2 linked regions of the Homo sapiens genome follow. The gene in region 2 interacts genetically with the main gene of each other region. Each region holds a gene or a part of one and is shown on either strand. Other genes may lie near its edges. The genes, in order: ACACA and UBA1.

Region 1 (3,812 bases), on a different chromosome or scaffold from region 2:
GGTGGGATGAGCCATTGGGCCTATGGGGTCAAGGCTACAGCGAGCCATGACCGCACCACTGCACTCCAGCCTTGGCGACAGAGCAAGACCCTGTCTCAAAAATAAATAAATAAATAAATAAACAGCTGGGCACGGTGGCTCACGCCTGTAATCCCAGCACTTTGGGAGGCCGAGGTGGGCGGATCACGAGGTCAGGAGATCGAGACCATCCTGGCCAACATGGTGAAACCCGTGACTACTAAAAATGCAAAAATTAGCTGGCATGGCAGCGTGTGAATGTAATCCCAGCTACTCAGGAGGCTGAGGCAGGAGAATTGCTTGAACTCGGGAGGCAGGGGTTGCAGTGAGCCGAGATCAGCCACTGCACTCCAGCCTGGTGACAGAGCTAGACTCCATCTCTAAATCAATGAGTGAATGAATGAATCAATCAATCAACTAATATCACTCTATTTTCAATTCATGAAAATACCTCTAATTAGGGAATAGCCCCAGGAACAAAGCTATAAGGTATACATGATCCAAGTGTGCTTTTCTCATAACTACAGATACTTATCCTTCACATACAGTACTTTCACTGTTGGGTTTGTACCCTGAGGCAGTTTTGTGAGGAATACAATGCTTAAAAGTATACAAGCACAACATCCAAAAAGTAAGGAGGATCCAAATAGGAAGGAATCCTACAACATAAACTCTGGCATTGGTAGCCAGAAAAAAATATAGTGTTATCCTATAAATACCTGCTGGCTGGGAAACTGACAGAGGACTGATGTGATGTTGCTAGCATACTGAGCCATTTCCTTCTTGATAGACTTCTCCACATTGGGGGGAATGCGGCCAGACACACTGGTCATAATATCTTGCAATTCTAGGAGAGGCAGGGAGGGATCTCTGAGGGTTTTCATCAATCGCTCTACCCAGTCTTTTACCTAGAAAGAAAGCATTGGTAAAATAGGACCCAAGTTAACACAATCCCCCAAATAAAAAGATATATAGTTGTCATTCTGTATACGTGGGAAATTGGTTCCAGAACCACCACTCATATATGAAAATCTGCACATACTTGAGCCCTACGGAACCCATGTATAGAAATAGTTGTGGGTTCCATATCTCATCAATACTGTAATTTTGATCCATGTTTGGCTGAAAAAATCCACATATAAGTGGACCCACACAGTTCAAACCTGTATTGTTCAAGAGTCAACTATATCTGAATTCACTATCATATACTACTTCTTTTCAATAAAAATTTATATAATTTTCAATAGATATGGGGTCTTGCTATGTTGATCAGGCTGGTCTCAAACTCCTGGCCTCAAGCGATCTTTCCATCTCAGCTTCCCAAAGTGGTGAGATTACAGGCGTGAGCCAACTATCATAGAGTACTTTGAAATTGCAACGTAAGCATCTAACATTGCCCCTATTCTCCAGTTTAAAAAGGACTAATCACGGGCGGGCACAGTGGCTCACGCCTATAATCCCAGCACTTTGGGAGGCCGAGGCGGGCAGATCACAAAGTCAGGAGTTCAAGACCAGTCTGGCCAACGTGGTGAAACCCCACCTCTACTAAAAAAAAAAAAAAAAAATTAGCCGCGCCTGGTGGCACGTGCCTACAATCCCCACTACTCAGGAGGTTGAGGCAGGAGAATCACTTGAACCCAGGAGGTGGAGGTTGCAGTCAGCTGAGTTTGTGCCATTGCACTCCAGCCTGGGCAACAGAGCAAGACTCCGTCTCGAGGAAAAAAAAAAAGGAGTAATCACAATTAAATGTGAAGTCCATGACAAGGATAAGAAACATGGATTTAAAGACCTCAAGTCCCACAACTGAAGGTGAAAGAGTTCTAGGCCAAACAGCTTTCTTTTCCTCCCTCTTAAACAATCATTATGAGACTTGGAACTATTTTGGAGAATAGGTATCCCATTTGTACATCCCTTCCCCAGGAGACGTGATACATACCTTGCTGCTAAAGAAAGGATCTGGAAGGCAGTATCCATTCATTACATTGACCAGATTATCCAGGACATAATGGAACACTCGATGGAGTTTCTCGCCTCTGAGTGCCGTGCTCTGGATCCGTGGCAGACTACCTGTGTGAAGTTCAGCCTGTCAACCCCAACAAGAGATCAAGTCATCTACTACTTTTGATCTAAGGTACAAACACACCACTGCACTTAAGAGTTATCATTCAAAATCGAGACATCATACCCAGCTACCAGGAGGGAAGTCAATAGAGGAAACATCATAAGGAAATTACAGAATCTTAGTACTACAGTAACTCTTGCAAACTCTAGTTCCATAATACTACAGGCACAAATACAAGGCATAAGATTAATAGGGGACAAAGCTAAAGAAAACACTGGCAAACCAAGCATTGAAATCACTTGCCTCTCCAAACCACCAAGTTCTTTAGCTCTTAGAGAGCAATATTCGGAGCACCTTCCTACTCACCTGCTGAACCTTGCTGGGGTTGTCCAGTTGCATTTTGGCTAGTACACAGCCAGGGTCAAGAGCTGCTCCAGGTCGCTTGACGTAATGGATACAGCCAGACTCCACAGCTGTTAAGGTCATTACCATCTTCATTACCTATAGTGAAAAATAAACTAGACTCAGATTTATCTCTCTTTACACAGATGAGTGCTTAAAAGAACTAAAATTTTTCCCTTAGCATCTAAGTTGGACCACACCTAATTTGACCAAGAAAAAATGGGAATTTACCATCATCTCCTAGGGACTATCAAGGCAAGCAATTAGAAAATCTCTCAGTACCTCACTTTAGGAATTAATAACAGTTATTGACATTTCTCCTTTCTAACTTTTACAACCATTTTGGCATAATTTGTGATTATATTTGTTTTGTACTTAGAAAGTAAGGAACAATTTAATATCCTCATACCAGTGAATCCAATCTAAGACAACCAGGCCAAAACCTAAGGATCATTCTTCACTCCTCTTTCTCCCTTACCTACCAATTACCAACCCAGCCAGACATATCTTCTAAACCTTTCTCAAAAATCTTCCTCTCTTGCCAACTCTTCGGTTTACGCCTTCTTCATTTCTGGCCCAAAGTACTTCAAAGACCCCCTAAGAGATCTCCCTACTTGCTACATACCTCCCTCAAGGTCACGAAAAGCAATCTTCCTAGACCCCAAATCTCATCATACTACTTTTCCACTTAAATCTTTCAGAGATTACCTGCTGCCTCCAGGATAGTGAAAACTTACTAGTATGGTTTATAAGATCCTTCATAACCTCACATTCAAGATCTCACATTACTTCTTTAGCACCTTTGCTTGTCCCTCCCCATTAAACCTTAGTCTATTCTCAAGCCACACCAACACATACTTGCAGTTCCCTAAATACACTGTGCTGTCTTGCTTCTGTCTTTGTACATGCTATTCCTTCAACTTTAAGCACTCTTCCCTGCCCTTCTTCACCTGCTCTATCACTATCTGTCTTTCAAAACTAAGATCAAATGTCTCTTCTTTCAGAATATCTTCCCATACAAGCTTAGCTTGATTTGGGTTAGGTGACCCTCTGCACTCTATGCTTAGCTCTCTTAAAATTAATCACATGACATTTCTTGTCTGTTTTGTGCCCCACCTCCATGTATTTTCTCTGGATAGCCAGCAGTTAGGACACCTAACATTCAACAAGTGCTATTGCCTAGTATCTATTTTTAGAACTAGAGATTCCTCATTTGCCTATGTGTTTTAAAAATCTTAAGGTTCGCACTTCTAATTAAGCCAACTGATGTTTCTTTTTCATTCTTATTTCCAATCTGTTACCTTTTTTTTTAATTTTTTAGAAATAGGGT
Region 2 (3,812 bases):
ACAGAAGCTGAGGGAAAGAAAGGCCAAAAAGAAGGGCTTCTGGCAGAGGCAGAAAGATCTCTGACAGAAAGAATGGGAACAAGAAAAAGGAGGGGTGAGGTGTGGTGGCTCACGCCTGTAATACCAACACTTTGGGAGGCTGAAGCAGGCAGATCACCTGAGGTCGGGAATTCGAGACCAGCCTGACCAACATGGAGAAACCCTGTCTCTACTTAAAATGCAAAATCAGCCGGGCGTGGTGGCGCATGCCTGTAGTCCCAGCTACTCAGGAGGCTGAGGCAGGAGAATCGCTTGAACCCAGGAGGCAGAGGTTGTGGTGGGCCAGAGATCACGCCACTGCACTACAGCCTGGGCAACAAGAGCGAAACTCCGTCTCAAAAAAAAAAAAAAAAAGAAAAAGGAGGAAAGTGAGACGACAAAGCCCCAACCTCCTACCCTACTCACCGTGACATCCCAGGGCCGGAAAAGAAACTGTCGATTCAGATTTGACTTCTCAATGGTGTCCATGTCTGTAACGATGATTTCTCCACCCTCCCCGCAGCCCAGCCCAATCATGGCAAAGTTCTTGAGCAGCTCACAGCCAATGGCCCCCGCACCCACCTAAGAAGCAACCAAGAAGACAGGCAGAGGCTGGTCAGGGTGATGCAGGTTAGTGTGAAGCTACCCATCACCCCTCACTCCCCTGAGAGACGGGGAGAGGGGCTAACACCACATCTTCAGGTTGCAGGACTCTAAGAAATGACACGCAGTCATGTGAGGAAGGAGGCACCAGAAGGGGAAACGAGGGATGCACTGGGCTTCCCTTCAAGATAAGGAGAATGGCAAAGAGAATGCGCCACCGGTTGCATTGAGATGCCGAAGGAAGCCCCAGGGGTGATGGCCAGAGGCCAAGATGAGGGGAGCAGACATCCAAGGGGACCACTTACCAGGAAATACTTCTGCTTGCCCAGCTTCTCTTGCAGGTCTGAGCCAAACACAGCCACTTGCCCGTCATAACGGTTCTGGCGCTAAGGAATGCAAAGGGAGGAGGGTTAGAGAGGCCTCCCCAGAAATGTCCCCAATGATGCCCTCCCCACAGGTCCCACCCACATACCTGGAGGCACTTGTCCTCTGTGAGGACCTCTTTGTCCTCAGGGAGACACTCAAGGGCATCAAAGTATAGCCACTGCATGATGGGCATGAACTTCCCGGAGCAGGCCTGGAGAGGGGAAGGGAGAGAGGGGGTGGTCAGTGGTTAACAGGGGCCTGACACAGACAGAGAGCAAGTGACAGAGTCATGGAGGAACCTGGCCCACCCCAATCCTGCCTCTCCCCACCCGTGCTGACCTTCATGACTTCCTGGGCAGCCAGGCCCCCAATGAAGGCGTTTATGGGTGCCAGATCCCCAGCAGCCACATATGCCAGCTTCCGGATGAGGTCCTCGTCCAGGTTATTTTGCTGCACTGCTGGCAGGGCTCGAGCATTCACAGCCTGTGCTAAGGCTACCAGTTCTGCTGCATCCTCCTGGTGGGCCAGAAAGAACCAAGAGAGGATATGTCAGGCCACAGTGAGGGCAGGGAGTGTGGACACGCAGAGAGGCATGGTGAGCCTGCAGTGCCAGGCATGTCTGCGCTGGCTGGCTCGCCCACTCACCCACCTCATTGCGGGGCCGAGGTGGCCGGCCATGCTGAGCACAGAACTGGTGCAGGGCCTGGAAGCCAATGTGCAGCTGGGCAGGGCGAGAAAACTTGGCGAAGTCCGTCACCACAAAGTCAGGTTCTGCCAGTGAGGCCACCAAGGATTTCTGTGGCGGGGGGAGAGGTCATCAGAACCAGAAGAGAGGAATGGAGAACTAGGGAATGCCTAGAACCACCCCCCACAGCCCACTGATCCCATCGACACACTCACAAAGCTAATCTTCTTAGGTACTTTGACCTGACTGACGATGCCTCCACGGATGTAGTCGGAGAAGTTGGAGGTGTCACAGATGCTAAAGGTATAAGGACCTACAGAGGGCAGGAAGAGAGCTGTCAGTCTACCCATTCTCCCTAAAATCCACAACCCCTGCAAGATAAGGAACCTCCTGCCCCGACTCAGCTCAGACATCAGAAGCTGTCTTCCCTCAGCTCCAGGCTCCACTTGGACATCAGAAACCATCTCTCCTGTGCCCCAGACTCAGCTCAGACCCCGTGAGACCCTGTGTCCCTGGCTCCAAGTCTACACGGGAAGACCTTCTCTGCTTCCCATCCAAATCAGCTCACACACAAGTAGATCCGCTGATCTGCCCTGTTCAAACACCAGAGACTTTTTCCCCACTCAGCTCAGATACCAGGGACACATTCTCCCAGGAATAGCTCAAACACAGTACCTCTCCCCCATGCCCACCAGCTCTTATTGGACCCCACAGGATTGTCTGTAGTTCATCTCAAACACCAGGATGTGTCTTCCCAACTCTGAACCAAGGGCCATGTCTTCTCCCTTCAACTCCCCGGCCAGAACCCAGGAACATATCTTCTAGTTCCCCTCTGCTTCCCCCATGGTCGCAGCTCACCCAGGACTTTGATCTCCATGGGCTGATTTCCGTTGAGTTCAACCATGCCCTGTACTTCTGAAAAGGAGACAAAGTCCCCGCTCTCAAACCCGTGTCGGGCCTCATCCAGGCAGGTAACCACACCGGGGTTGTCCTGGTTAAAGGAAGAGTGAGTCTCAGAAACAGGCCCAGGGTACCAAGAGCAGACAGGAAGGACTACTGCAGCCCACCTGCCTGCCAGGAACCCTAGGGCTGGTCTCCTTACCTTGGTAACCATAGAAACCATAGCACTGAGTGGCTGCTCCCCATTGGAATCTGTGAGGATCATTTCCTCTCCAAAGTCACAGAAGAGCTGCCTGTAGAGGGAAGCAATAGGGCTGGTGCCTGTGTCCCATGCACATACAGGTCCCACGGGTCCCTCAAGATGTAGTGAAAACTTGCTGAGCAAACTCAGCCTATCACTGCTGGGATGTAAGATGGTACTTGTGCCACATGGGGAGAGATGAAAACACAGAACCCAAAACCTGGGTAGCTGAGAAGGGATGAGGGCAGGGAGAGCCTAGAGTCTTGGCCTGGGCTTGGTAGGAGTTGGGGGAAAAGGGGACAGGGAGGGAGGTGGGCTGCCACTCACCCAAACAGGCCCCGCGTGTCTGCCACCACCAGCTTGATGCCACGGTTGTGACAGAACTCACCCACTCGCAGCTGGTCCTCCAGGGGGGTGTTGGTGAGCACCACCACCTGTGGAGAGATGGAGGCTCAGGCCCAGCATTGGGGTGAAGGGGAAAAAATGGAGGGCTGGTGTGGAGGACTCAGGCAGTCCTCAAGGCAAACACATCCAGGCTTTGCTGGGTCAGCCTCTTTCACAAACACATAGCACCTACTGTGTATCAGACTCTGTGGGGGTCGAAAATGAACCCCTGGACTATACCAGGAAAGGTGAAGAGGTAGCTGGGAGGAGGGAGTTTGGAGAAGAGCTGACTCATTTATTTGACAAACACCCGCTGCTGTCTGTCTGCCATGCCCTGTGAGACACTGGAGTAAAACTCTGTCTCCAGCCAAAGTCTGAGCTCACTCCTACCACACCCACCTGCTTCCAATTCTCAAGACGACGCCTGCTCCGCCATGATCTTTGGGATTTTGCTCTCTGCCTGAATGTCCATCCTTCCCCACCAGGGTGAGCTCCTACTCCTCCATCAGGATTTAGCTGCAGTGCCCTGGCAACCTGGGATACTCCAGGGACAACTCTCAGCTTCCAGAGCACCTCTTTCCGGCCTGGACTTTTTAATTAACAAACACCCATCCA

What was found.
Region 1: changes in UBA1 (region 2) and ACACA together harm fitness less than expected from each alone (positive genetic interaction), as found in Homo sapiens cells (one large-scale study listed by BioGRID).

The regions. Positions count from the first base shown.
Region 1 is NC_000017.11:37,242,634-37,246,445, forward strand, and holds part of ACACA (acetyl-CoA carboxylase 1), read right to left. Parts: intron 2,582-3,812; coding exon 2,447-2,581; intron 2,343-2,446; exon of another isoform or gene 2,168-2,342; intron 2,102-2,167; coding exon 1,955-2,101; intron 927-1,954; coding exon 738-926; intron 1-737. UniProt on the Homo sapiens protein: Cytosolic enzyme that catalyzes the carboxylation of acetyl-CoA to malonyl-CoA, the first and rate-limiting step of de novo fatty acid biosynthesis.
Region 2 is NC_000023.11:47,200,329-47,204,140, reverse strand, and holds part of UBA1 (ubiquitin-like modifier-activating enzyme 1), read right to left. Parts: intron 3,248-3,812; coding exon 3,141-3,247; intron 2,866-3,140; coding exon 2,775-2,865; intron 2,664-2,774; coding exon 2,531-2,663; intron 1,986-2,530; coding exon 1,888-1,985; intron 1,784-1,887; coding exon 1,637-1,783; intron 1,504-1,636; coding exon 1,327-1,503; intron 1,199-1,326; coding exon 1,094-1,198; intron 1,008-1,093; coding exon 927-1,007; intron 601-926; coding exon 445-600; intron 1-444. UniProt on the Homo sapiens protein: Catalyzes the first step in ubiquitin conjugation to mark cellular proteins for degradation through the ubiquitin-proteasome system.